Homo sapiens: one gene and its partners. Each later gene encodes a partner of the first gene's protein in a complex. Each region holds a gene or a part of one and is shown in the gene's direction. Other genes may lie near its edges. The genes, in order: CACNB2, CACNG1, STAC3 and CACNA1C.

Evidence for each region.
Region 2: CACNB2 (region 1) and CACNG1 share a complex: the UniProt entries of both Homo sapiens proteins name them as parts of the calcium channel complex.
Region 3: CACNB2 (region 1) and STAC3 share a complex: the UniProt entries of both Homo sapiens proteins name them as parts of the calcium channel complex.
Region 4: CACNB2 (region 1) and CACNA1C share a complex: the UniProt entries of both Homo sapiens proteins name them as parts of the calcium channel complex.

What each region holds. Positions count from the first base shown.
Region 1 is NC_000010.11:18,143,420-18,150,444, forward strand, and holds part of CACNB2 (voltage-dependent L-type calcium channel subunit beta-2), read left to right. Parts: intron 1-7,025. UniProt on the Homo sapiens protein: Beta subunit of voltage-dependent calcium channels which contributes to the function of the calcium channel by increasing peak calcium current. Plays a role in shifting voltage dependencies of activation and inactivation of the channel.
Region 2 is NC_000017.11:67,047,539-67,054,563, forward strand, and holds part of CACNG1 (voltage-dependent calcium channel gamma-1 subunit), read left to right. Parts: intron 1-6,457; coding exon 6,458-6,532; intron 6,533-7,025. UniProt on the Homo sapiens protein: Regulatory subunit of the voltage-gated calcium channel that gives rise to L-type calcium currents in skeletal muscle. Regulates channel inactivation kinetics.
Region 3 is NC_000012.12:57,248,188-57,255,523, reverse strand, and holds the start of STAC3 (SH3 and cysteine-rich domain-containing protein 3), read left to right. Parts: upstream 1-4,336; 5' UTR 4,337-4,531; intron 4,532-5,793; exon of another isoform or gene 5,794-5,886; 5' UTR 5,887-5,887; coding exon 5,888-5,953; intron 5,954-6,215; coding exon 6,216-6,483; intron 6,484-6,720; coding exon 6,721-6,818; intron 6,819-7,325; coding exon 7,326-7,336. Other genes in the region: R3HDM2 (R3H domain-containing protein 2), read left to right, coding at 411-751. UniProt on the Homo sapiens protein: Required for normal excitation-contraction coupling in skeletal muscle and for normal muscle contraction in response to membrane depolarization. Required for normal Ca(2+) release from the sarcplasmic reticulum, which ultimately leads to muscle contraction.
Region 4 is NC_000012.12:2,055,984-2,063,008, forward strand, and holds part of CACNA1C (voltage-dependent L-type calcium channel subunit alpha-1C), read left to right. Parts: intron 1-7,025. UniProt on the Homo sapiens protein: Pore-forming, alpha-1C subunit of the voltage-gated calcium channel that gives rise to L-type calcium currents. Mediates influx of calcium ions into the cytoplasm, and thereby triggers calcium release from the sarcoplasm.

The sequences.
Region 1 (7,025 bases):
AAGTGATTGCATAGATAAAGGAGAGAGAAGAGAAAGGGCAGAATGGATTTTAAAAGCAAGTTTAAGAGATATAAATATTCAACTGCATCAACATTCATCTCCTTGCTTTCTCTGCCTTCCAAAAATGAAAGCAATTTGACTTGAATTGCGTTCATCTCACACCCATTATTTGAGGGAAACATTACCTTGTTTATTTTATATCTGATAAATCATGGCATCATAGGATTGTGTGAGGCTTGGGAAAGCCATCTCTTCCATCTCTCTGTTTGGGCAGAACAGACCAGCAGTAAAAACTGCCTGAGAAAGGAGGCTGGCTCTAGAGCATCCTCCTTGTATGTGGCACCGAGTAATTCTACTCAGAATTATTGGGCAGTTCTACCTAGAAATGGAGTTTCTATTTACAAATGGAACCTCTAAAGCAATGATTGGTTTTAGGAATCATTCTACCTCACCTCTGGATTATAGTATTATATTTGTATGAAGAAAGCAGAAGATGTAGATTTGCAAACTCTGCCATTTTCCTTTTCTGTATCAATCATTCTGTCTAGAGAGAGGGAGCATCCTGATACATTCCGGTCCCTTTGCCCCAGTACATTGCCATAAACAAAATGATACATTTCTCAAAGCCCTGGTTTTTGTTTTGTTTTGTTTTTGTTTTTGTTCTGTTTTGTGTTTTGAAACGGAGTCTCACCCTGTCACCCAGGCTGGAGTGCAGTGGCATTATCTCAGCTCACTGCAACCTCCACCTCCTGGTTTCAAGCAATTTTCCTGCCTCAGCCTCCTCAGTAGCTAGGACTACAGGCGCCCGCCACCATGCTCAGCTAATTTTTTTGTATTTTTAGTAGAGACGAGGTTTCACCATGTTGGCTAGGCTTGTATCAAACTCCTGACCTCAGGTGATCTGCCCGCCTTGGCCTCCCAAAGTGCTGGGATTACAGGCGTGCGCCACCATGCCCAGCCCAAAATGGATACGTTTCTTACATGGGAAATGAATGGCAATCTAACTGCAAATTCTTGAAAGTCCCCATTTAAGAAAATTGCATTGCTTTTTAGGTAACCTGTTGAACAGTTTCAGCGTGAACCTGGACACAGTCTACTTCCAAAGTCCAGGTGCTCATGGAGGACCCTTTCTCCAAGCTCCAGATCTGTCTGTTCATTGTGGTAGCTGCTAGCCACCTGTGGCTTTTGAGCCCTTGAAATGTGGCTGGTCTGAACTGATATGTGCTGTAAATGTGAAATACACACCAGATATCAAAGGCTTAAGATGAAATAAAGAATATAACACATCTTCATTAGTAAATTTTAAATTGATGACATGTTGCAATGACCATGTTTTGGATATGCTGGGTTAAACAAATGCATTGTTACAATTAATTTCACCTGTTGCTGTTTACCTTTTTAATGTGGCTGCTGGAAAATTTCAGTGATATATTTGGCCATATGACATTTCTATTGGGCAACATTAAAGTATGAAACTGGTAATTCTCCAGGGAATTGAATAGCTCCTGCGTGAAGGTTGGGTGAACGGGAAGCAGGTGACAGGGATTGATAGGTAACAGAAGAGGAAACGGAGGAGTAACAAGAACAGTATCTCAGCACTCTAGGCCTCAGAGAGATTGTCAGTGGCACCTCCAGTCGCACCTGAAACTGAACAGACAGTAACCAGTGGGCCTGTTTGTTTTGCTCCTAGCAACAGGTCCCAGCTGGTCCCAGCCCAGCCGAGTCTGCCAGATGCTTTTCAAGCATGTTGTGGTAATACAGCCTGGTGATGGCAACATCCTGAATGGCTGTAGCAAGGAGCTTTATCCAAAAAGAGTAGCAGCTGTTTTCTAGTGGCTCTTCAACTACATCAACACTGTTTTCCTGAAATATTCTTAGGTCCCGTGTGCAAATGAGTTTTCTGCAGTCTCCAAAGTTGGTGGTTACAGGTCCTGTGCTTTATGTTTTGCTGAAATCTTCACTCTTAACCACCATCACTTTCCTCTTGAATGGTATTTTTTTTTTTCTAATGTGACATGGGAGAAATTTACAGACATGCCAATCAGAATTTCTGAGTATGTTTTAGAATTTGAAATATATCTGAGTGATTTGAGGTTTTGTTGTTCTTACAATATCATGCTCATTTTATTTTTCTCTCTCTTTTTATGTGAAGACTCAATTTACCTGTTGCTGTATTTAATTCCTTTGAATTATATAGCCTTGGCCCTTTCAAGAGAAGCTAAGCAAAATATGTTAACCTCATAGGGGATGGTGATACTCTACAATTTTGTGGCATGTCTCTATCCTACACGTAGTCTAGGTCAAACATAACATAACATGGTTATGTTACAAACTAATTGTAACAATGCATTATTTCACAACTGCAGACAGAGAAAACTACTTATGACATCACTTAAAGGAACCGGGCCTGTCTTACTGATCTTTCCAAGCCTGGCAGGAGGTAGACTGTGAAGAAGGCATGTGTTGTTCCTGGCTTTCTGCTCTCCCTGCCTGTGCTCCTCCTTACTGGGCAGATAGATCTCTGCTTCCTGGCCTCCTCCTTCCTCCCTCCTCCCTCCTGTACCTGCTAGACACCCACCCCCATCCCCAAGAACTCTATTTATGCAGGCTCCTTGTTCCTTTCTGCTTTTGTGTGAACTGAGCCATATTATAAAAGGCAACTTACTTCTCTCTTTTTTCTAGGAATGTCATTTAGCTACTTCTTGCCTAGTAAAGGATCTTACCCTTAGCTTATTCACACTAAGCTATTGGTAAATGAGGAGATTTGATACATGATTTCTCTCTGGATAGTTTTGGCTTTGTTTGTTTTAGGTCATAAGATGAGGAAAGTCTGGAAATTCAAAGGGATAAACATCAATGAATACGAACTGAGAGAGATGGAGACTAATTTTTTTTTTTTTTTTTTTTTGAGATGGTGTCTCACTCGGTAGCCCAGGTTGGAGTGCAGTGGTGCAATCTTGGCTCACTGTAACCTCCACCTTCCATGTTGAAGCAATTGTCCTGCCTCAGCCTCCTGAGTAGCTGGGACTACAGGCACATGCCACCACGGCCAGCTAATTTTTTTTTTTTGTTTTTCGAGACAGAATCTCGCTCTGTCACTCAGGCTGGAGTGCAGTGGCGTGATCTCGGCTCACTGCAACCTCCACCTCCTGGGTTCAGGCGATTCTCCTGCCTCATCCTCCTGAGTAGCTGGTATCACAGGTGTCCGCCACCACGCCTGGCGAATTTTTTTGTATTTTTAGTAGAGATGGGGTTTCACCATGTTGGTCACATTAGTCTTGAACTCCTGACCTCAAATGATCTGTTTCCCTCTGCCTCTACCTCCCAAAGTGCTGGGATGACAGGTGTGAGCCACTGTGCCCAGCCTAACTTTTGTATTTTTTAGTAGAAACAGGGTTTCGCCATGTTGGCCAGGCTAGTGTCAAACTCCTGACCTCAGGTGGTCCACCCACATTGCTTTCTCAAAGTGCTGGGATTACAAGCATGAGCCACCGTGCCCGGCCTAATTTTAAGTGTCAGTATTTTGCTCATGGGAAGTAATCTGTAGGTAGGAGAAGTGTCACAATAACCATAAAAGCACAGAAGCCACATCATTCTTCAGGTTGTCCCCAGGGGCTGCCAAGACAACTTTGAGTGCACGGCTAAAATCTCCAGTTAACTGACAACTTCTGTAATTAATTATTCCTGTCTCCTTCAATCATGCAGCAATTAGATTTTCATTACCTGTGAAAAGGTCAACATTTATTTGCTGATTTTTAAGACTGGAGTCCATTCTTAAGTTACTTCGTGTCAAGGAAGATGGATATTCATTCACACTAAGCTGATATTAACATCATGATGGATTTTGAATGTCTTTTTAATAAGTCATTAATATATTTTTGGAAATTTCTTAAGAATTTTTTTCCCTAGTTTCTGAAATCTTAGCTTGATGTTTTGGAACAACTAAAGGAATATAAATATAAGAGTTTTTTTTTTCTTTTTACTGTGGTGACATAATTTGTTTTAAGCTTCATATAGCTAATAGCAATTAGTGGAAATTAGTGACTTTTGGGACTCTTTCAAGAAGGACACAGAGACCTGCATGTGTCAGGGAGAATCTATAGGTAACACCTTGTACTACAGCCAAATCCCCTTTCCTGTCTCCCCTTTTCCTTATACAACCTGGGCTGCACTAATGATTAACTGTTTCAGATATTGGGCGTTCATATATTTTAATGCTGGTAAAAAATATTTAGAAAAACTGTTCACAAAAGTAGCTGCACTTGAAGTAGCAAATTAACTAAAACAATTACATATATTTTTTTTTTCAAATTTAGTCAGCTAAATATTTGAACACTTAATCTTCCCTGTCTTTTCCGTTTGGGAGAGGTTTGGCCTTCACTTTTTTCCCCCCTTAATTCCTTCAGAAGAAGTAGTCTAGTCCTTATTTTCAAGGATTTCAAGTAACTGAAAACCAAATCTTTCGAGCAAGATGGACTTAATTTTAAATACACATTAGATTAAAATAAATTTAATTTTGTAATAGCAGGATGAATTTTCACTAACATTTTTAAAGGTATATGAAAATGGACTATTAGCTTTCCAAAGATGCTTTAAATGTTTTTTTGTTTTCTGATCCTGACTGTTATTATAATAACAAAATAACTGGTCAGTAAGTAATCACTCTACAGTTTTTTAAAAAAAAAGAAACTTTAGAAGAGAAATTCCTGTGGAAATTAGTAAAATAACAGAATAGAGATATAATGAAGCATATATATTTATTTTGTCTTTTAATATGATATATGATAGGGATTTGCTCTAACACTCTTAAGGCATGAGCAAATGAATACTTTAAATAAATCATCCCTTATACACTTAAGTAATTGAAGAACAATTTTTTTTCTCAAAACTATCACCAGCATGCATGCAGTTCAGTGTGCTATAGTTGTTTGGTGTATAAACTATCTTAGTACAGTTGAAAACTGTAATAATTTCATTACATATACTTTGCATAGGTAGCTAAGTACGCCTGAAATAACATTTATGAACAGGATTCCCAGGGGTCTGGAAAAATTAATGTGAGTTTTTAAATGTGTTCAACTTCTTGCAGAGAACAGCCACCTCCTCTGTGACTGAATGTCTTCAACATTGTGTGGCTCTCACAGTGCCTGTTGTACAATTGTAAGCAACCACAAAAAAGCTTACACATTCAAGAAGTTGGATAATGAGACATATTTATCACTAAAATGCTAAAATTAAAGGACAATAGAATTGCGAAGATACTCTTTTCTGTTCATTTAAAAACGGTACTGGAGGCTGGACATGGTAGCTCACTCCTGTAGTCCCACCACTTTGGGAGGCTGGGGCGGGAGAATTGCTTAAAGTCATGAGTTCAAGACCAGCCTAGGCAACATAGTGAGACCCTGTCTCTACAAAAAACAAAAATTAGCCAAGCACGGCAATGTGTGCCTGTAGTTCCAGTTACTTGGGAGGCTGAGGTGGGAGGATTGCTTGAGCCCAGAGGGTGTGGGGTGTAGTCAAGGCTGCAGTGAGCCATGATCATATCACTGCACTCCAGCCTGGGTGACAGCACAAGACACTGTCTCAAAAAAAAAAAAAAAAATGGGATGAGATTATATTTTGTCTTTGTTCTCAAAGATAATTCATGTTCCTCATGAGGATAAACGGTGAATTTAACAAAGATTGTCGCTACACCCCCAAAGAAACAGGCCTTAAAAATACTTTCTAGGTAATAAGTATTTTTGCACATAGGTTAATATAAATTTAAAAGAAAATTTTAAAGAGATTTTCATACTTTATTTTAGCCTTCTTAGGCCTTAGAAAATGCATCTGTCCAAACCTTTACATAATAATTGGAAAAGAAAAAAAGTGGTTAAAAGAATGTTATTTTTCAACAGTTTACTGAATAATGTTTACACAAGTAAAAAGAATGAGCTGTTAACCGAGGACAACCTTGTATATTACATTATGAAAGACCAGCGTAGCTTTCTTGCCGTTTATGAAGTTGAGAGTTAATTAAATGTCATGGAAACACATTTGTATTATATAAATCCCTTAGATACTCTGAATAGAACAAACATATATAAGAAAATTTTTTGCTTTAAGATGATACCACCCTCTCACTGATAGCAAATTCGTCTAAATTACTCATAACGCAAATGTTTGTAATAGATTTCAGCTTGCCTAAGTGCTACATATATTATGGCAGATATTTTAATGAAAAGCATATGAATAGAGAAAGCATAACCAAATAGCATTTTGAGAACCTGAATGTGATGATTTTAAAAATAAATGTTGTAAATTTTGATAATCTAAGGAAGTCTCTATGAGCCTAATAATTGTCAACATGTTATACGCTTTAGTCCAGTTTGTTTCCACATCTTCCAACCCCTGTATAGGTATCACTTTTTATGTATTACTTTGAGTCCTTACCATGTGTTAGATCTTATGCTAAATGCTATAAATACATTATTTCGTTTCATACTTAATCCTATGAGGTATTATTTCATCTAATACTTAACCCCATTTTAAAGATGAAAAGATTGATGCTTGAAAAAGTTAAGAAATTTGGTGAAGATTTGCTATGTCCAGGATTCTAACCTGTGTGCTACATTTAACTCTAAACTCAACTGTTAAGCTATTGTTCATTTATATTTTAATGTTTAATATTTGCCCTTACTGCATCTATGCTTAGAATTAAACATAGATTGATGTGTAGTTTATTCTTAGGGTTCTGAATGTAAACATAATAGGAAAAGCAAGTTCATTTTTAGATGTTTCTGCTTGGCCCAATCCTATTATCGAAACAAATCATCTTACCTTTAACTTCCTGTTTTAAATGCTTATTTTTAAATGCTTTATCATTACAGGCTTTTGCCTCTTGCCTGCTAACACATTTATAAGACGACATCCATTGTTTTAATTCACTAGTTATTAAATGCTTTGCCAAGAAAACCCTCCTCAGCCGGGTGCAACGGCTCATGCCTGTAATCCTAACACTTTGGGAGGCCAAGGCGGGCGGATCA
Region 2 (7,025 bases), on another chromosome or scaffold:
GTCATTATTTGACCTGTCTGGTGATTCCCTGAAAACCCCCACTTGAGAAGCTGTTTCTGTTTGACCTGACTCTGAGCTCATCCAGTGCAAATAGTCTTTCTCCCTGGGGATGTTTGTTGAAAATAATTAGAGATGATTGATTAACATCATGGCTGTCTGAGGCAGTAGATAACAGTTAGGGAAAACAACAGGCTAACCAAAAAACTGGAGACTGAAATGTCCATAAGTTGCTTTGAAAAGCTCCAACATATTCCTGGGAATCTAGGAGGCCACATGCATGCACAATGCTATATGCATGCTCAGGAAAGACCTGAGAAGGCCCTAAGCACTCTCTGCCTTATCTTGAGACTCTGTTCAAGCAGGAAGTGAAGGCTAAGGCAGAGATGTGGGTGGCTTAGCTGAGCATGAAAGTCATATGCACAGAGCCCCTCAGTAAAGACTGGGAGAGGCATTGTTGCCAAGCGTTTTAGGAAATTTATAATTGGTCACTAAGCTAATTGAACAGGGATCTCAGTGATCACACATGACAAAAAACACATACTTTACCATCTTAGTTCAAAAAAGTCACTAAACAAACAACGGGAACAAATCTTCAAGAAGGGGGAACAACTGATTTCCAGAGTTGCCACATTATATTGTTTAAAAAATACTGGCTGGGTGTGGTGGCTCACTCCTGTATTCCCAGCACTTTTGGAGGCCAAGTGAGAGGACTGCTTGAGGCCAGGGGTTTGAGATCAACCTGGGCAATATAGCAAGACCCTGTCCCTACCAAAAAAAAAAAAAAAAACAAAAAAAAAACCCCACAAAATATCCAGGAGTGGTGGCATGTGCCTGTAATTCTAGCTACTCCCAAGGCTTAGGTGAGGGAATTGTTTGATCCCAGGAGTTAGAGACTACAGTGAACTATGATCATGCCACTGCACTCCAGCCTGGGTGACAGAGCAAGACTCTGTCTCTAAATAAATAAATACATACATAAATAATACAAGACACACAAAGAACTAAAATGATAAGGGGCATACATGGGGCAGGGAGAAGTCAATAGATCTGTAAGGAAGCCAGATATTGGACTTACTAGACAAAAACTTTAAATCAGCTATAGTAAATATATCCAAAGAAAAAACAATCAAAACAATTAAAGATGAAAATGATGCCTCATGAAATAGAAACTATCAATTAAGACACAGAAATTATTTTTAAGGACAAAATAGAAATTCTGGAGTTGAAAAGTACAATAACTAAAATGAGAAATTCACTAGAGGGGCTCAATGGCATATCTGAGCAGGCAAAAGAATCAGTGACCTTTAAGATAAGTCAGTTGAGATTAGCCAGTCTGAGGAACAGACAGATAAAAAGAATAAAGAAAAATGACGAGAGCCTCGGAGACTTATGGGACACCATCAAGTTTATGTAAAGGGAGTCCCAGAAGGAGAGGGAAAGAGAGAAAGGAGCAAAAAAGGTATGTGAAAAATAATGTCCAAAAGCTTCCCAAATTGGATGAAAAACGTTAAAAATCGACAAATTTATGAAGCTTAATGAACTCCAGGTAGAATAAACTCTAAGGGATCCACATCTAGACACATGATAATCAAACTGTTGAAAGATAGAGACAGAGAATCTTAAAAACGGAAAGAAACAACTCACCACATATGAGGAATCCTTAATAAGATGAACAGCCAATTTTTCCCCAAATCTATGGAGGCCAGAAGGTGGTGGGATGACATACATATATTAGCTCACCTAATCCTCACAGAAACCTCCGTGAAGGCCATGCTATTATCATCATCCCAATCTTACAGATAAAGAAAATCAACCACTGAGAGTTGAGATATTTGACAAGGTAACACAGGTGATGAGCAGAGCAGCCAGGACTCACACTCAGACCCTAACATTCACCGTTTTAGTCAATACATTAACTACTTTACAACAACCCAGTGAGTGGGTTCTTATTCTACAGGTGGTTCTTATTCTACAGGTGGGTCTCATTCTACAGGTGGTTCTCATTCTACAGGTGGTTCCTATTCTACAGGTGGTTCTCATTCTACAGGTGGGTCTCATTCTACAGGTAGGAACAGGGAGGCTGAGCATAGCCTTCCCCAGGCTAACCAGCTAACAAATAGAGGTTCTCCACTCAAGTCTTGAATCCAGAGCCTCCTTTCCCTCCAGTTCCTTCTCACACCCTCTATTGTGCATGAAAACACAGCTCCTAAAAGCTCTGACCCAAGTGAACACAAGGAGTCCAGCTTTTGACATGGCATAGTTTGAGGGCAGCTGGACCAGAAGCTGGTGCAGTGGAGCAGACTTCTCAAGGTCCCACTTAGTCTTAAAATGTTGGAGGCTCAGTGGGCAAGAGTTGTCTAATTTTTCCAAATTAGACAGTCTTAGACTCCAAACAGTCTTAGAAGGACTTCCATGTACAAGATCAACATCCAAGACCAATTCCAATGCCTCCAGAATGAGAGTAGGAGCCTCTCCCAAAGGAGAGACTATGTGTTCTGAAAGTCCAAATGAACCCGCAAAGAGGCCATCCCCTGCCCTTGGGCTGGGTGAAGTGCTGCTTCTTTCAGACTCTGCCTCTTTAGGGCAAGGAGGCAGGTTGCCCCAGGGCCCACTTTGCCTAGTGCCCCATTTTCCCTACTGGTCCATCTTCTCTCAGTGCGGGAACTGGGATTGTATAAAAGAGCATGATACTACTGACCCCAGGAATTTCATGGGCTCACTTCACCACCCACAGAAGTCCATGCCAGAGGCCTAGGCCAAAGCCAGGCTTCTCCCATGGAAGAGCAGTGCTCTGAAGCTCTAGGGTCAGGTCTTGGAGATTTCCAGCCCATTTTATAAAATTCTTCAATCAGAGATGTGGAAGGAGACACAGCCCAGAGAAACCACTGTTGGGAGCTGATAGAACTTCTTTTACCAAAAGGCTAAAAACAACACTGACATCAATGCAAGTTAGAGGCTTCCTTGCACCCCTAAAGTACCAGTTTCTTTGGTTTTGGACAAATCCACAAAGTATCTTTGAATATATGAAAGTCTCCATGGACAGTCACTTGGCACACTGATACATTCTCAGTGATAACCCAAGGCATCCACTAATCCTGCCAGCTGTTCCAACTATCAAAGAAAGATCCCTATTAACTCAAGTTCAGCTTGGAGCTAAATGTGGCTTCTGCTCTAATTCTTTGAAACTGGCACACTACACATGGTTCTGCACAGTTACTGATGCCCTTAACCAGAACACTGGGTTAGCCAGACTATTCCATCCCCCAGTCAAGTCTGAGAGCTGAGTTCACCATATTTTTAATAAATAACCCATTTAATATTTTTAAACCGCTGAGTCTTACAGAAATAAGGAGATTAAAATCAGCATAAGCCATCTGCAGAGACAAAGGAGAATGGCACGACCTCAGAGTTCCTAACACCCCAGATCATCATCCTGGCATTGGAATCTTTGCTGACTTAGTCGGAAGCAAAGCTGCAATCCCTGAGCTTTGTGTAAGTGTGATGGAAGCCAGGGCAGCGGGGCAGAGAGGGGCATCCCAGAGGCAGAGGCAGGAAGACTGAGAGTCTGCACAGGACCGTCACGGTCCCTCTCCTCTTGACCCATGACTAAGATGGGTCCACCTCGGATGTCCTTCCTCTTTACGTTGCCCTGGATGCTCAGTTTCCCAAATAATATCCACCTAGACCCAGGAACAGGGCAGGGAGGGAAGGGGCTCATAGTAGGGTCTGTCCATCTGAACAGGACCCTGCACCCTCTTGAGTAACATGGGCAGATGCCTGGCCTGATTTGTCCTAAATGAGGCCTGGGTCTGACGTGCCCCCACCCCTACAGGGGCCATTAGAGACCATGAAAGGGTTTATGGTCTCCAATGGGCAGCCACATAGCCCAGGAGTGGATGTTTCTCTCAGGTTCAGGGCAGGAGACACCGGTCTTTTTCACATGCTAAGCCCAAGAAAGGGGAGAGGTCAGCCCATCAGTCCTCAGGCCCCCAGTTCAGCCATGTAAGAGTGAAGCTGAGGCTTCCTGTTACCCTGAGAAGGAATCCTACCCACTGGAGGCCCCCTCCCTCCATTTGAGGACACTTAATGGAGAAGAGGGAGGAGGAACACTGTACCTGGACCACCAAAAGAAAAGCATCCCCCCAGAAGCTCACAACCTGGCTCCTGCAGACACGTAGCCTACCCCTGTGTCTGAGTTAAGATCATTTCTATCCAAGCAGCCAGCAGCCAGGCGGAGCCTGGCGTTTATCTGGTGGGGATTTGGTGAGCCAAATGCTACCTGTGTGAGAGTCACCTCAGCAACCCACCAGGTGCAAACAGCTGTGCCCCCAGCAAGGCACTCCATGGCCCTCATCTCAGGGCCCTCCGCTGGGAAGGATTTTAACTTATGGCTTTTGAGCAGTCAGGGAGGCAGCTGACCATGAAATACACTTGAATTCAGTCAATTCTGACAACTGAAATTGGCCCTTCAAGAATGAAACAGAAACAGAAATGTTTCTTTGTCCAGAGGGAGACACATGGAGACTTATGACATAGCATGGGCCATTTTGAAGCAGTGATTCGAGAGATCTACAGCCAATAATCTAACAAATAGAAGAGATCTGCATTATGCTTTAAAATAGCACCGGATGCCCAGAGAGAATAGCAGAGCACCAATTCTGACATCACCACCAGCAGTCAGACACCCCAGGTAACGCGGTTCAAAAGGAAAGTGATTTAAATATAGAAGCACACAGAGAAGGCTGTTTATGCCAGGAATGGGTACTGCTGCTAAACCAGATCCCATCTCCAGGGGTCATTTGCTTCCTCAACCTCAGGAGAGGCAGCAGCCCTGGCTCTGGGGGGAAGGAGGGGCATGGTATGAGACCACAGGCTTAAGGTGCAAGAAGAATGATTTAGGTCCGGTTAAAGAAAGTCTTCATCCCAAAGAAAAGCCTTGGTATCACTGCAGGTACATTTCCAGAAAGAACTAGGCATCAACCGCCTTATGAGCATCTAAATGAAGCCTGGAAGTGAAGAAATGAATTGGCAAACTAGACACCATCTCAACTAGAGAAAGAGATGTTTTTCTATTTAAGGGTCACTGATCCACAGGAAAAGAAATCAATGAAGGGCCTCCACAAATAAAAAGCAAACTAATTTAGTTTTGGAAGGAAACATAATATAAAATAACCCATTCATCCACTTCCTAAATCAAGAGCAAAGAAGATAAACCGTATTTAGCAAGAAATAAGACTGTGCTTTTTTTTTTTTTGAGACAGAGTCCCACTCTGTCACCCAGGCTGGAGTGCAGTGACACGACCTCAGCTCACTGCAACCTCTGCCTCCTGGGTTGAAGCAATTCTCCTGCCTCAGCCTTCTAAAGTGCTGGGATTACAGGTGTGAGCCACCACGCCCGGCCTGTGCTTTGATTTTATAGTATACCTAGCTATGAGAGAGAGACTGAAAGAGAAAAATGGAAATGAAATTATATTTTAAATCAGCATGAATTTCCTTGTGCTGAGCCCCTCCCCTCTCCCTCATCAAATTCAGATTTGCGTTCCTACTGCCCACAGACTTTCCATAGCTTTTATGACAATTATCAGGTGGGCCAAGCGGCTTTGTGGGGGCAGGTCTCATCTGGGCTGTCTCGCAAAGACCAGGGACCCAGTGAAACCACATGATGGTCACATTCAGCCCTCGTAGGGGTTCCATCTGCATCCAGGCCATCCCAATGGCCACTCGGAAAAAGCCCTTTGCAGGGCATTTTAAGGGGCCTGGAGCAGGGTTCCCATCCTGGCTGCACATCAGGCTCTCCCAGAAAGCTTTTGAAAAACACTGTTTCCCAGGTCCCACCAATGAACCAGGGTGTGCCTGGATTCTGATGAGAAACACAGTCCCAGGTTTGGGGTTGATCCAGGGTTTCTCAACCTTGACACTCTTGATATTTTGGCCTGGATCATTCCATGTTGGGAGGACCTGTCCTGTGTGTCTTGGGATGTTCAGCAACGTCTGTGGCCTCTACCGGCTGGGTGCCAGGTGTACCCCTCTCACCACCACCATAACCCCAGGCATCGCCAAGTGTCCCCTGGGGGGGCAGAATCGGCCCCAACAGAGACTGCTGTTTGGTTCTTTGTTGATTGTGCACCCTGCACACCCTGAAAAATGGCTTGAGCCTGGGCCTCGGTTACCCTGTCTGCCTAATGGGGTGCAGAACCCACAGGCCGTCTGCCCTGCAGACTCATCCAGCCTCAGCTCCCTGAAGACCTCCCAGCCCTGCAGGCAACCTCATTATCCCACTGAGATGTTGTTCTAAGGGTCAAAGACAGATGTTTCAGCCCAGATTAAGGATCTGGGGAGAAGAGAGGCTGCCAGAGCCCCCTGCATGCCGAGCAGAATGACACCACGCTCTCTGCCAGGCCTCTGTCCTTGCTACGGGTTGCTCCCCTCAACTCACAGTCTGTCTCCTCCTTTGCAGAGAAGAACTGTTCCTACTTCAGGCATTTTAACCCCGGCGAGAGCTCGGAGATCTTCGAATTCACCACTCAGAAGGGTGAGCCTGGGTGGAAAGGGGTCTGGGGTGACAAGAGGGGACTTCTGTGTTGTGCACCACTGGGCCAGAAAGTCATTGGCAAAAGCACTGACTTCCTCACGCCTGATGAGAAGAAGCCTGTGGTGCATTTGAACAACAGCCTTGTCAGCTCCCCGCTCCGGAGGCCCCAGGCAGCCGCCTTCCATCTCCAGGGCCCGGAGCTTCCACACCTCGGGGCCAGGGAGCGTTTGCAGAAGCAGCACCTCCTGGTAGGCCCCTACACAAGGGCAGCTGTTGTGACGGGAGGTGTGGATGTGGAACAAATGCTCAGAAGCCCCGTGGTGGCTCTTGGTGGCATGTGATAGTTAGAGTCTGCAGGGACAGTCTGAGTCCCTCCCTGGCCTAGAAATCCCTCCCTGAGTACCAGGAGGGTGCGGTGGGCTCTGGGAGCTTTTCAGGATCCGCAGAGCTCAGACGCACACCCATTGTCGGGAGTACAGACCCGTGCCTGCCT
Region 3 (7,336 bases), on another chromosome or scaffold:
ATCTATTTGAGCCAGCCTCTGAGTGGGAAGGGAACTATGGAACATATTTCAGATTGATACATTATTGTTAAAGAACATTAGCAAAAGCCACATTTTCTTCATAGCAGTAGCACCTTGTGAGAGAACTGAGGTATAGGTTCTTAGCTCAGAAACCCAGGATTCTGATTCCCTGTCCCTTCTTTCCTGTATCTCTGGGCTAGGAGAATAGAAAGGTTCATTTGTTTTTCTCCTAGTTGCCCTGATCAGAGCTGGGATGGTGGGGAGGGGAAGAAAGGGCTAAGAGAGAAAGGCCAGGCTTTTGAAGACATTGTATACAGACTTAGTCAGCTGGACACTTCTCTGCTGGGCTGCTGTCAAGTCCTTCCTGTCCTATTCCTCTCACAACCATGTCCTCTCTCCTCCCCTTCCAGTCCTGGGGCGGGTGCTGGAGGTGACAGATCTCCCTGAGGGCATCACCCGTACTGAGGCGGACAAACTCTTCACGCAGCTCGCCATGTCTGGCGCCAAGATCCAGTGGCTCAAGGATGCTCAGGGGCTGCCTGGAGGGGGTGGGGGGGACAACAGTGGGACTGCTGAGAATGGCCGCCACTCGGACCTCGCTGCCTTGTACACCATTGTGGCTGTGTTCCCCAGCCCCCTGGCTGCCCAAAATGCCTCCCTTCGTCTCAACAACTCCGTGAGTCGCTTCAAACTTCGAATGGCCAAAAAGAACTATGACCTGAGGATCCTGGAGCGAGCCAGCTCCCAATAAATGGAGGAGGGGAAAGGGACTGTCACAGAAGGAGCAAGGGCAGGGTGGAGGGGGTTGAAGGATCCTGACAGACCATGGACAGAGGCAGGAAGTAAGGAAACTGATGTTAAACTGGAACCTAAGACAGTGATGAAGATGGAAACACAGATACCTACACTGGCATTGGACTCCTTCTTGCTCCCCTGCCATGGGTCCTCTCTTTTTCCCTGGTTGACCCCCCTTGCATCACTCTTCTTCCCATCCTCTTCTTTTTTTTTTTTTTTTTTTTTTTGAGACGGAGTTTCGCTCTTGTCACCCCAGCTGGAGTGCAGTAGCACGATCTTGGCTAACTGCAACCTCCAGCTCCTGGGTTCAGGTGATTCTCCTGCCTCAGCCTCCCAAGTAGCTGGCACTACAGACACGCGCCACCATGCCCGGCTAATTTTTGTATTTTTAGTAGAGACGGAGTTTCACCATGTTGGCCAGGCTGGCCTCAAACTCCTGACCTCAGGTGATCCACCTGCCTTGGCCTTCCAGAGTGCTGGGATTACAGGCGTGAGCCACTGTGCCTGGCTTCCATCCTCTTCTATCATTTTTTTAAATCTCTTCTCCTATCATAAAATTAATTTCTCATTTTTTGGTCAGGTAGAATTGGGAAAGTCCCACACTGTCCTCCTATTACCTTAACATCCCAAGCTTCCTTTCCTTTTTTGGTCTTTATGAATATATTTATATGGACAGAATTAAGATAAACAAAATTGATTGCCCCATTCTCTCACTTCCCCATCTTGTCTTCCTAGACCCCACAGAGTTAAAACTTGGGATTCCCCTGGCCCCCCCAGAACACTTGTATATTGTTTGTTTGAGGTTCGTGCCGCAGTAACAGACACAGTATTTAATTGCACATACAGATGTTTGCTGGGTATATTCACTGTAAATTTTATTTAATCTGTTTTTTTGTTTGTTTGGGGGTTATTTGGGGGGAGGTTGGTTTTGTTTTTAAATATAAAAAAAAAAATCTGTCACTGGACATCAGTCACTGTTTCTCTGTTGCCGCCCTGGTATGGGTAAAGGGTTGGAGGCCCTGGGTAGGTATAGCCCTACAGCTGTTGGAGGTGTTTGTCGTGGGTTGGGATGGCTTTCTCTAGCATACGCACACTATTTTAACACCATTCCCTCTGTCTCATCCTCTTCCCTGTACACGGTTCTGATAGATGGCTAGATCTCTAATGGGACCATGGCTTTGGGCTCTCCCGGTTCTGCCACTGTGGTTCATCGAGCATATCACTTCTCAACTCTGGATCTGTGTCCAGATCAGTAAAATAAGAGACTTGGACTTAGTAGGTGACCTCTAGGTTTCCTTCCAGACTATTAATTCTGTGGTACTGTGTACTCATTTAGGGCCCTTGTAGTTGAGTTTTGAGATAGGGTCTTGCTCTGTCACCCAGGCTGGAGTGCAGTGGCAGATCTCAGCTGACTGCAGCCGCCTCCCGTGTTCAAGCGATTCTTGTGCCTCAGTCTCCCGAGTAGCTGGGATTACAGGCGCGATCTAGCATGCCTGGCTAATCTTTTTTTTTTTTTTTTTTGCTATTTTTGGCAGAGACAGGGTTTTACCATGTTGCCCAGGCTGGTCTTGAACTCCTGGGCTCAAGTGATCTCCCGCCTTGGCCTCCTAAAGTGCTGGGATTACAGGCATGAGCCACCACTCCCAGCCCAGCTCGTCTTCTGAAAACCCTTTAGGGATGGAGAACTTGGGCCTTTCTTTTTTTTTTTTTTTTGAGATGGAGTCTCGCCCTGTTGCCCAGGCTGGAGTGCAGTGGCGCGATATCTCGGCTCACTGCAACCTCCACCTCCCGAGTTCAAGCAGTTCTCCTGCCTCAGCCTCCTGAGTAGCTGTGCCCCATCGTGCCCAGCTAATTTTTGTATTTTTAGTTGACATGGGGTTTCACCATGTTGGCCAGGCTGGTCTCGAACTCCTGACCTTGTGATCCACCCGCCTCGGCCTTCCAAAGTGCTGTGATTACAGGCGTGAGCCACCGTGCCTGGCTGCCTTTCTTTAATCCTAAAGCTGGAGGATTGGGTTTTACCTGTCAGGGACAGAAGCAGATTTTTATTACAATGAAAGCTACAGCAACTGAACTCGCAGTGCCAAGATGCTGTATTATCCAAACATGCTCAGCAGTCCCTGTCCTATGTGGCTGAAAAAAGACGAAGAGCAGAAGTCATCTTGCCTGCAAGATGGAGCTTTTCCTTTAGAGCATCTCAAAGCAAGCCCTGTTGTTCTGCAGCCTGTCAGAGCAGGGCCATTAAAGAACCTGCAGAGTCAGAACCATCCTGCACCCCCTTTTCAAACTCCCCCCTTAAATAGAAAAAAGTAGTGGGTGAGAATGACAAAGCACGTTGCCCTGGAAATCTCTTGGGTCCAAGTAGCTGTATCCCTAACGACGATCCTACAGGAGCTTGCCTGACCCAGTCTCCAACACAGTCCTTTATTTCTTACAGATACAAGGAATAGAGCAGCACTGCATTGCCACCTCTAAATTGCTCTCCCCTGAGATGGGAGTATCTCCTCTTTCATCCATGTCACAGCCCAAAGAGTAGAAGGGTGCACCCCTGTGAGATGAGAATGGCATCTGTCTCTTTGATCCATCAGTTATATACTGAGGCATCAAAGGTGGGAGATGGAATCAGGGAATCAAAAGGGTTTAGGAAGTGTGAGGGTTGGCCATCCTACCTTTAAGAGTTTGCAGTTCTCATGAGGAAGGGGACATTACTTAGAAATGATTTAAAAAATTCCTTATGTGGCAGCTATATGCTTCTGTCCAGTGTTAACTGGCCCTTTTTAATAGCCCTGGTAATTCCCTTCAGTCTGAGGACAAAATTTTACAAGAAGGAGGGTGGGGAGATGTCTCTGGGAGCTGCTGGAGGGAATGAAGCAATACTACATATTCTTCACTTTCTTACAGGATAGCAAAGTACTCCTCCAACCACCTACAGATAAAAAGCAATCTAGCCATGCACGGTGGCTCACACCTGTAATCCTAGCACTTTGGGAGGCCAAGGCAGGCGGATCACCTGAGGTCAGGGGTTCGAGACCAGCCTGGCCAACATGGTGAAACCCCATCTGTACTAAAAATACAAAAATTACCTTGGCGTGGTGGTGGGCGCCTGTAATCCCAGCTACTTAGGAGGCTGAGGCAGGAGAATCGCTTGAACCTGGGAGGTTGCAGTGAGCCCGGATCGCTTCATTGCACTCCAGCCTGGGCAACAAGAGCAAGACTCTGTCTCAAAAAAAAAAAAAAAAAAGCCATCTAGTATGGCTGATAGGAGAGCTCTATGAGTTCAAATTAGTCTTTTTTTACCCTGTCTCAAAAAATAAATGAAAAATAAAAATAAACTCCCCTTAAATGTTAAATGAGCATGAACAGAAACTGTCCCTTCCTGAATTCAGCCATTATTCACCTGTTCGCCTTAGATGAAGAATCAAGGAACAGCAGCTCTAGGGGGTTGGGAGGAGTTAGGGTCCGGCCCTGCCCCAGACCTCTCAGTGTCCAATTTCTCTGTGTCAGCTGTGTTTCTCAGCTGTCCACTTTCCTCCAGCCCTGTCATTTCAGCCCTGACACCAAGGCAGGAGGCTAGGAGGTCTACAAATAGCGACTGGGTAGCTGGTGTGAACACAGGGGGTACTGGGGGGGCTTAGCCCCCAAGGAAGAGGACCAGTTTTTCCCCAGCACCACCATCAAGGCCTCGAGGCTCCCAGCTCCCTCTACAGCCTGTGGACTGACTTAGGGAATCCCGAACGTAAGTTACCTCTTCATCCTCTTGATTTCCACGACTGCTCACCCCAGCTGCCCTGATCTATAATCTACTCAGCTTCTTCATTTCTCTCCTTGTCTGTGAGTCTTTTGGGTTTTAGGCGTAAAATTATTATTCTACTCTAGGATGAGTTTGGATTGAAGCGGGGGGTGGGGGTGGGGGTGGGGTGAAGGGAATGAAGTAGTAAGGGAAGGAAAGGCTCATATTACCCTGAAAACTTAAAATAGCTGAGCCCTGAGGCAGGCTGGGACAGAACTAGGCACAGGGCCCCCAGGGCTCAAGAAAAAAGTAGGGGAGGACAAATGTCTCCAGTCCATCCTTCCTTGTGTGCACACGAGGACACACATTAAACCTCTTGAAGAGAGGAGATCTGGGAAGGTATGCATCACATCTCTGTTGCCCACAGATTTCCAGGAGAAACAAAGTACCTATAGGAAAATGACGTAAACCACGCAGCTTTGAACACTGTGTAAGGGCTGTAAACTATGGGGTCGCCCCTCAGGATGGAAGGATGAGTATCAGTTTGAGGAACTAATTGGGAAGCTCTTTAGTCTGTTGGGCTTTTTTTTTTTTTTTTTTTTTTTTTTTGAGACGAAGTCTTGCTCTGTCACCCAGGCTGGAGGGCAGTGGCACAATCCCGGCTCACTGCAACCTCCGCCTCCCGGGTTCAAGCGATTATCCTTCCTCAGCTTCCTGAGTGGATGGGATTACAGGCGTCCGCCACCACACCCGGCTAATTTTTATATATTTAGTAGAGATGGGGTTTCACCATGTTGGCCAGGCTAGTCTTGAACTCCTGATCTCTAGTGATCCGCCTGCCTCAGCCTCCCAAAGTGCTGGGATTACAGGCATGCACCACCACACCCGGCCATGTTAAGCTTTTTTCTAGACCTCCATGAAATCTGTTAATAAAACCTGCCAAAGGATCTGTATTTGGCCCAGTGCAGTGGCTCACGCCTGTCTCAACAATTTGGGAGGTTGAAACAGGAAGATTGCTTGAGCTAGTTCGGGACCAGCCTAGGCAACAAAGCAAGACCATGTCTCTACAAAAAATAAAAAAGTAGCCAGGTAGTGTGCACCTTGTGTTCCAGCTACTCAGGAAGCTGAGGTAGGGGGATCGCTTCAGGCTGGGAGGTCGAGGCTGCAGTGAGCCATGATCACGCCACTGCACTCCAGCCTGGGTGACAGAGTGAGACCCCATCTCAACAGTAACAACAGCAAAATCTCTCATCACATTTCTCCGAAAGCCTCCCCTTTGAGGACCACCCTACTGCAAGGGACAGAAAGGGAGAGAAGAATGAAAGGGATTAGATTTCATAGTGGGGTCCAACCTCTTGCAGGATGACAGAAAAGGAGGTGCTGGAGTCCCCTAAGCCCTCCTTCCCAGCAGAGACTCGGCAAAGTGGGGTGAGTCTGGGCCTCTGACCACTGGGTGTGGGGGGCTGGGAAGCCATTACAGCTGAAGAAGAGTGCTTAAATTGATCTCATTTGTGTGTGACTCATTTTTTGCTGGCCAGCACCTGCAGTCCCCAATACCAATACCCCCCTAATCCTGGGGTACATTCCTTGCCTGAAACTAGAAAACTGTCTAGTTTGCTCTAGCGCCCCCCTACTCTAGAGAGGGTGACAAGTCCTTTTAACATTGGGTTTTCTTCACTCCCTCCCTCAGCTACAGCGGCTAAAGCAGTTACTCAGGAAGGGTTCTACAGGGACAAAGGAGATGGAACTTCCCCCAGAGCCCCAGGCCAATGGGGAGGCAGTGGGAGCTGGGGGTGGGCCCATCTACTACATCTATGAGGAAGAGGAAGAGGAAGAAGAGGAGGAGGAGGAGCCACCCCCAGAACCTCCTAAGCTGGTCAACGATAAGCCCCACAAATTCAAAGATCACTTCTTCAAGAAGCCAAAGTTCTGTGATGTCTGTGCCCGGATGATTGTTCGTGAGTCATGAAGGGAAGTGAAGAGAGTATGATATTGAAGGCAGAGGTTTGGGGAGAGGGCATAGGAGAGGAGTATTTGTAGCAGATGGGCTGTGGCTAGAGTTGGTGTAAGGCAATGCTATTAGAGATTGAGCAAGTAGGGTCCCAGACAGAAAAGGAAACCTAAGAGTAGCAGCAGTGGTACAAAGGGAAAGGGCAATCTGGAACCTTATCTGAATTTTCTCCCCCTTTCCCAAGTCAACAACAAGTTTGGGCTTCGCTGTAAGAACTGCAAAACCAACATCCATGAACACTGTCAGTCCTATGTGGAAATGCAGAGATGCTTCGGCAAGATCGTGAGTAGGCTGTGGAGAGCAAGGAGGGGACATGGCCACGCGTGGTGGCTCACGCCTGTAATCCCAGCACTTTGGGAGGCTGAGGTGGGCGGATCACGAGGTCAGGAGATCGAGACCATCCTGGCTAACACAGTGAAACCCCGTCTCTAAATACAAAAAATTAGCCGGGCGTGGTGACAGGTGCCTGTAGTCCCAGCTACTCAGGAGGCTGAGGCAGGAGAATGGCGTAAACTCGGGAGGCGGAGCTTGCAGTGAGCCGAGATTGTGCCACTGCACTCCAGCCTGGGTGACAGAGCGAGACTCCGTCTCAAAAAAAAAAAAAAAAAAAGAGGGGACATGTCACCAGCCAGCTACCCCTTGCTGGTCTCTCCTCCATCCCATTCATTTCTCTGCTTTTTCTTTCTCAGCCCATCTCTTTTTCTGAGAAAGGGTGAGCACTCCTGGGAGAGATAGGCTTCTGGACCTTACTTTGCTACCTCTAATGCTTCCTCTCATCCCATCCTACAGCCACCTGGTTT
Region 4 (7,025 bases), on another chromosome or scaffold:
ATAGGGGTTAGAGTTTCAGGAGACAGAAGAGGAGTCTAGGACTGCCTCAGAAGATCAGTAATGGTGACGAAACAAAGAGTCGAGAACCAAAAAAGTTGTCAGTGGCGGGGGCTGTGCATTCCTCTCTTCCCGACATGCTCTGAGATGTGGAATGCACCAGTCCTTGCTCCCTCACCTTTTCCGTGGAGTGTGTGCATGTGTGAGTGTGTGTGAGTGTGTGTGTGTGTGTGTGTGTGTGTGTGTGTGTGTGTGTGTTGAGGGTCGAACTGGAGACTGGAGGTCAGTGCCTGGGAACAGCCTGGAAGTTCATTGAAGGACCAGCTTCTGACCCTGGGTTTCAGGCTGGGGTGGCACACTCAAGCCTTGCCTCGCCTCTGGTGCCCTGTCTGCTCTGGGCCTGTGCCAGCCTCCCACTTTTCTGGGCCGATTTTCTATTGCAGGCTCCAGCTAGCAAATGAGTGTCTTAATAGTCAACCATTGAACAAATAAAACACCAGAATGTCCCTTATCTGCTAGAGACAAGGCAGAGGGGAGAAACATGTGTTTGGGGAGTGCAAGACACACTGTGCTTTTCTTTTAACTACTTAGCGATTCAGCAGAATAAGAATCACTGTAATAAGGTAATAATAATAATGATCACAGTTAACTTTCTTTACAAATGGTCAGAGAACAACATTGCTCGCACATCAGCTTGAGCAGGTTAAAGAAAGCTGTGGCAATAGCTTTGCTTTTTCTTGATCCTGCATGGAGAAAACTGGAGGAAAGGGGCTATTGGAGTTCATCATATTATTCCTACTATTGGTCAGGCACTTTTTAGTGTTTTAGAATATGACAATATATTAAAAAGAGTCAATTTTTCATTATTTCCATAGAATACACACTAACAGTATTTAAGTGTGTGTGTGTATACATACACACATGGAATAAGGAAAAGCTATTTTAAATAGATCACACGAGAGGCTAATGCCCTTCAGGGACCTGGGGTGTTGAGAGAGAAGTATTGATAATGCAGTCTCCTAAGACTGTTTAAAGATTTCTTCTTCATAGTAAAGGGAGACTTGTTCTTACAGGTAGATGCTGCAGGCACAGTGCTTTGTAAATGAAATGATGAGCCGTTAGCCCCGTGGGACCATCTCTCAGTCTTGGCAATGACCTAGGTCTCTTCAATTTGTTCTTCAAATAAAACTGCTTGAGTTGGGTTCTTCTGTAAGACCTATCAAAGGGATCCAAGGAGCATACTGACTGGAGATTTCGAGGCCCTGCTCATCTTGGGATCCCTGCTTCCTAGTACAGGCCGCTGCTCAGTCCAGGGCCTCGATGCAAGGCTGAACAAATAAATGTCTGCGTGAATGAATGAATGCGACCTGGCCAGACCTGCAGTAGATGTGGCTTCTGCCTCTTCCAGTAGGTGGCGCCACAGGGCTTAGGAGTCAGGAAAGGGGCTTCAGGGTCCGCCTGGTGATGAAAGGTGTAGGGGGAGTTTAGAGCTTGTGACCTGTTGGGGCTGTGCTGCTTCCATCAGGCCCACACCTGCCCCGGCACAGGTAACCCAAAAGACCAGTGTGTCTCCGTGCCGCCGCACACACTGGAGGCCCTCGCGGCATCACTGAGGGACCCAGGTCCCACAGTGACCTCTCCACCCTGTTGTAATGAGAACTCCTTTGGAGCCCACCCAGTCCGTCGCAGGCTCTTCCCACAGACGTCTGTTCCCTTCCAGCACAGACAGCATCCCGCCGAGCCTGGAGGAAGCCTTTTGGGTGAATCGCTGAACTTGGTATGGCCAGATGTTAATTTTCTCCCTGATTTTTCACTGATGGTTTAGTAACCAGAGGGCCCGGTGGTGCCCAAGCCCAGTGGAGCATGGGGTGACCTGAAGCATGGGATCTGGGAACCCAGACCTGTGCAGTCACAGAGCTTGCCAGCCAAAGGCAGGAGGACATTTTCCTAACTTTAATAGGGAAAAGAACACAAAAACAACTGGGTGCACTTCACAGTTGATTTCCGTTTATGAGTCTGCCTGGATCTCCTGCTGGGTAATGGCAGAAAAGCTCAGGAGACCCAGGTTAGGAAGTAACTGAGATTTGTTCTAATTTCCAGTGATGTTTTCCAGCGCCTGGCATTTTCTTTTCTATTCCTTTCTTCACTCGGTTTTCTTAGTTGTGTGGCAAGTTCCATGAGGTCTGAGAAGCCCTTGGCACTGTGCTAAGAAGGGGTGAGTGGCTGGCAGCACTTTCTTCCTTTTACAGTAATTCCTCCCGCCTGATACAGCAGCTGTTTGTTCTGTAGGAGGTACAGGTCAGCCGGCGTCATCTCACCTCTTCCTTGCTGGGACCCTGAAATCAGTGCTGAGCATTCAGATTTAGCAGACAATTTTATTTTCCAATATGGACTACAGAAAGCTGATAGACTGTTTGCGAAACACCTGGAGACTTAACAACAAGCCTAATTAACAAAATAATCACACTGATTTCATCTGTTTCTAGATTCCATCCTCACAGTTGCCTAGGTTAATGTTGGGCACTGTGGAGGAGAACAGAAGATTGGTTTTAAAAAAAAAGGCATGGGGAATTGTTTTGCAACATATCAGGTGCCAAATATTTAGGGACAGAAGTGCTAAACATTCTGATAATGAAATAACACTCTGAGCCATGGCTGTCATTATTAAAATAATTTAGTAAACACCTGTTTACATGTACCTCAAGGTTAGATACCACGTAAAACAAGTAAAAGTGACAGGATCCCTCGGGGAAAATGGAATGGAATGTTTTTCGGTGTCATTTCGAAGCCGGGTGTGTAGACTTAAACTGAACCCACTGCAGAAAAAGCAAAATGGAAGGCTGAAATAATGAATGCCATCATTTGAACTGAAACCTGGGCACTCCAGAAGAGCTCTTCTCTGTGTTTTAATTCCTAGATGGGGTGCTTATTTGCTCAAGACCAGGCTTTCCTGAGCCTGTGTAGACACGGGCCTGGAGCAGGTAGACAGACCCTCTTGGTTTCTATAGTTGAGGCACCCCTGGAGGCAGCTGTTTATCATGGCAGGAAGGGAAGTGGATGCATTCTCTACTGCCCCCTTTCCCCTGCCGAATTCAGGCAGGACCCGCGCAGGTCCCTGGAGAACCTTGCTTCAGTGCTAGCTGTGTGTACCGTGTGGGCAGGACCCCAGCTGGGAGATGGGGAGCCCAGGATGACCCCACAGAAAAGCAGAGCTGTGAGATGGCTGGAGCCTCCGAGAGCTGAGATGCAGAAGGTGAGGGGAAGCCAGAGGAGCCCCAACTCCCTAGGGTGTCTGGGAGGGTTTGGGGAACAAGGTCATCAGGGTAGTCAGTTACTCCTTGTGGAGCTGAACTGAATTTAAGTTGGGATTGTAGGGACTGTAGGAGAGAAGTTTGGGCCTGGAGCTCAGGAGTCGGACCGAGGTTGAAAATAGACCCTTCCTTCCCTGGAAGCCGAGGGAACTAGAGGAAGGGTTCATCTGGCTGAAGCAGAGGGTGAGGAAAGCGGGGGTTAACTGGCAAGAAACCCAAACCTCTCAGCCCCTCCCCTCCCCAAAACCCCACAGAACAGTTCTCTGCAAAACACCTTCACTTTAAAATGGGCTTCTTGTGCTATACCCTGTGTGTATAGGGGGCAAGGGGCTAGGCTCTGGTTCGTTAAAGGGTTTGTCAAACATAGAATAAATGTAATGTCTCTTTGGGAATTTACTTTCTAGGATCAGGACATTTTATGGGTAAAGGAACCTTAGAGACAATCCTCATTTCCAGTTGAGAAAACAGAGGCCCCTAAAGGTTCATGGAGGCAGGGATGTAACTAAATACAAGGTCTTCAGTCTCTTCATCCTCCTGCCTGTACCACACTTGGTGCTGGCCCCCTGAGAGAGCATTGTTAGTGCTTCTGGCTAAATTTTGCTTGGTAGATCTTTCAACCTCTCTATTCTTCCTCCCCCTGCCTCCACCTTTGTACTGCCTTAAAATAATTTCTGCGATGTTAGATTTAGGAATGGAGTTGGAAGGGTGGGGTGGGGGAAATCTATCATTGGAAAGGTTTAAAAACACTTTCTTAGGCTACAGAGTAGAAGTTCATACATGTCCACAAGAAACTCCTGCAAAATTCAGATCACGATTTTGTCTGCAAACAGATCTGCCTCTAAGCCTTTTTTATTTGCTCACTTCCTCTCGGCCCCAATCTAGGCTTGTTTCAGCCCCTTTGCGAGAGTGGGATGGGGATGGGAAGCCGGGCTGTGCTGTGGGACTTCCCTGGTGAGCTGCTGGGATTCTTCATGGACCAGCTGGCATTACCAGTAGCTGGGGTATAGACACACAGATCAGCCCCAGGGTAGAGACTGTGAGACAGGCTGCCACAGACTCCACCTGAGCTGGGCGACCAAGGGCGTCTTTCTGCTCCCATGTCAGGGTTGGTCTCCTAGGACCCCCGGCCTACTCCCAGGAGACATTCCCAGCAGTGGTGGTAGACTCAGCCCATGGAAGAGAATCACTAGGACCTGCCTCTGACATTCCCATCTTCCTTGAAGTGTTCATTGGCTGACTTGTTTCATACTCTTTCAAGTCATCTCTGAGAAACTGGAAGGCCTCTGAGGCTGACTCGGTCTAGCTTGAAGACGGAGGCATGAGCCAGGCTCATGCTTAGAGATGTGGCTTTTGAGTTCCCTGGAGGAAGCCATCATTTCAGAACATAGTGTTGTGATAATTTCATGAAATATTCAAGCTGCCAATTTGCCAACAGGGGTTTCTTTTAATACACTCGGCTACACTTGGTGTTGCCCACTTGAACCTAGCTAAAAGGAAAATAAAATAATCTTGTCTCCTGTCCTTTAGAGAACCAAGCCAAAATCTAGACAGTGAATGAATGTTCTTCTCCATATTGCCTGTGGGCAGAAATGTTGACTTGAGTACTCAATTAAGCTCTATTTACTTTATAACCATTGTGTCATGTACAGTCATTTATATTCCTTTCTTTCTTCCAAAATAATCTACGTTGGGCTAAAACCTTTCAAAGACATTAACAAAAGTAACAAAGTAAATAGCTAAAGAATAAATAAGGCTGTAGGCTAGAGAAATGACTTGGGTCTTGGGTCACATTCTTTGACTTCATCTCTTTCTCTGAGAGTTCAGAAGGAATCAAATCCCTTTTTTTTTTTTTGTCTGTAAAGTGGAGATAATAATCCTTAGCCAATTCACTTCGCAGGGCAGCTGTGAGGATCCAAATAGGAGAATGAGTGTATATCGCTGTTCAAACATCAGCTACTCTTATTCTCCCCATCAGCGAGCAGAGCACCAGAGTTTGGAAAAGCAACGCCATGAAGTAACATTCACAGCATTTCAAACAACTTTGGAGGTGTTGTGGGAGGGCTGACATTATTCAATATTTTAAAGGTGAAAATGTAAAACAAAGAGAAACCAGAGTCTGAGGTGGTCTGGCTGATACCAGAATAATCAGGGAGGAAGTGAACCATTGGTTGAGATGGGCCTGGTATTTTGCCCTCCAGAGAGTCTAGGAGCCTGTGGCCAGTAGGCTCCCAGGACGGTGGAGCCATGTGCACTGCTGGCACTGCTGCTGTTTCCAAGCTGAGGGTGAGGACATGGGGATGCAGGGTATCCGACGCCTGGCAGCTGTCCACCTGCCATGCTGCTGTCCCCTCACTGCCACCACACATGGCTGCCTGGCTTCGGCCTCAAGTCCAAAGCCACGCTGGCCTGAAGTCCTTTCATGGCCTGAAAATAGGGCCATTGAGGGCAGGAAGAACACCACCTGGGCAACCAATGTCTCCTCACTTTTGAACGTGAATTCCCCAAACCTAAACCCAACTTCCCAGTACAGGAGGACGGGCTGGAAAATAAAACTTTGCTTCAAAAGTAAACTTTGGGTTTGGAAAATAAACTTATTTATTTTTCATAGCCAAAATGTTGCAGGTTTGGAGATAGAGGGGACAGTTCTGTGTAGCTCCCTAAGACACTGATCAAAATAGGAAAGAGCTTTAACATTATAGTCTAAGTGACAGGATTAGTTTTAGTTTCCCAAAGCAAAAATAATCCCATCATCAAAAAGTATGCTGGGAAACTTTCGCACTTTCGCATTTGTTTGCACCTTGTTCTACCCCCAGCTCTGGTCCTGTGATCTGTGGAGCCATATATGTTTTAATTTTTCTCTAAAGAAAAAAAGCTGTATTGAGGTATAACATCTACCTTGTTATAATTTTAAAATAGAGCAAGAGTAATAGCCACCATTTATTGAATGCCTAGCATGTGTTAGACAATGTTCTTGGTGCTTCATGTGCTTAATATGTTTTATCCTTACAGTAATCCTACCACGTGGGTTTTAATTATATTTTTTAGATAAGGAAACTGAGGACCAAAGTCTTAAGCAATGTGGCCACAGCCACCCAGACAGTGTTGGGGCTGGGAATTAAATTCAGGTCTGTCGGACTTTCAAAACATTTGCTCTTTCTGTTACTTCTCCCCATGGAGAACAGTAGAAAGAGAAACCCACTATCTCTCTATCCTGGGAAAATGACCTTGTCCTTGCCTTCTGGAACCTGGCTTAGATTTGCCTTGTGGAAGCTCAGAGCTGGAATCCTTGTTCTTACTTGATGGCTGCATGTTGTCGTGGTACCCCGCCTCCCCTCCTGGTCCCGTCCTCTGGCTTTCTTTCCCCTTATTCCCAGGGTTTCTGCCAGGGCCCTCCTTGCTTCTTCACATCTCCTCACAGGCCTTCACAGACCACCTAGGTCAGTACACCTTGTCTCCCGGGGGACCCATTTGTGGCATGGCCTTGCTTCACCACCCATTCTTGGAATATTTCCTCAGTCACTCCCTCCAGGAAAATAGACACTCTCCATTCTCAAACGAGATTCCCGTGAGTCCCGGGGACCATCCCTGTAAGCTGAGCTCTCCAGACTTCATGCATTATTTATTTATTTATTTTGAAATAGCAGCTTTGTTGAGGTATAATTCGCATACCGTAAAATTTACCCTTTTGATGTGTATGATTCAGTGGTCTACCTACTT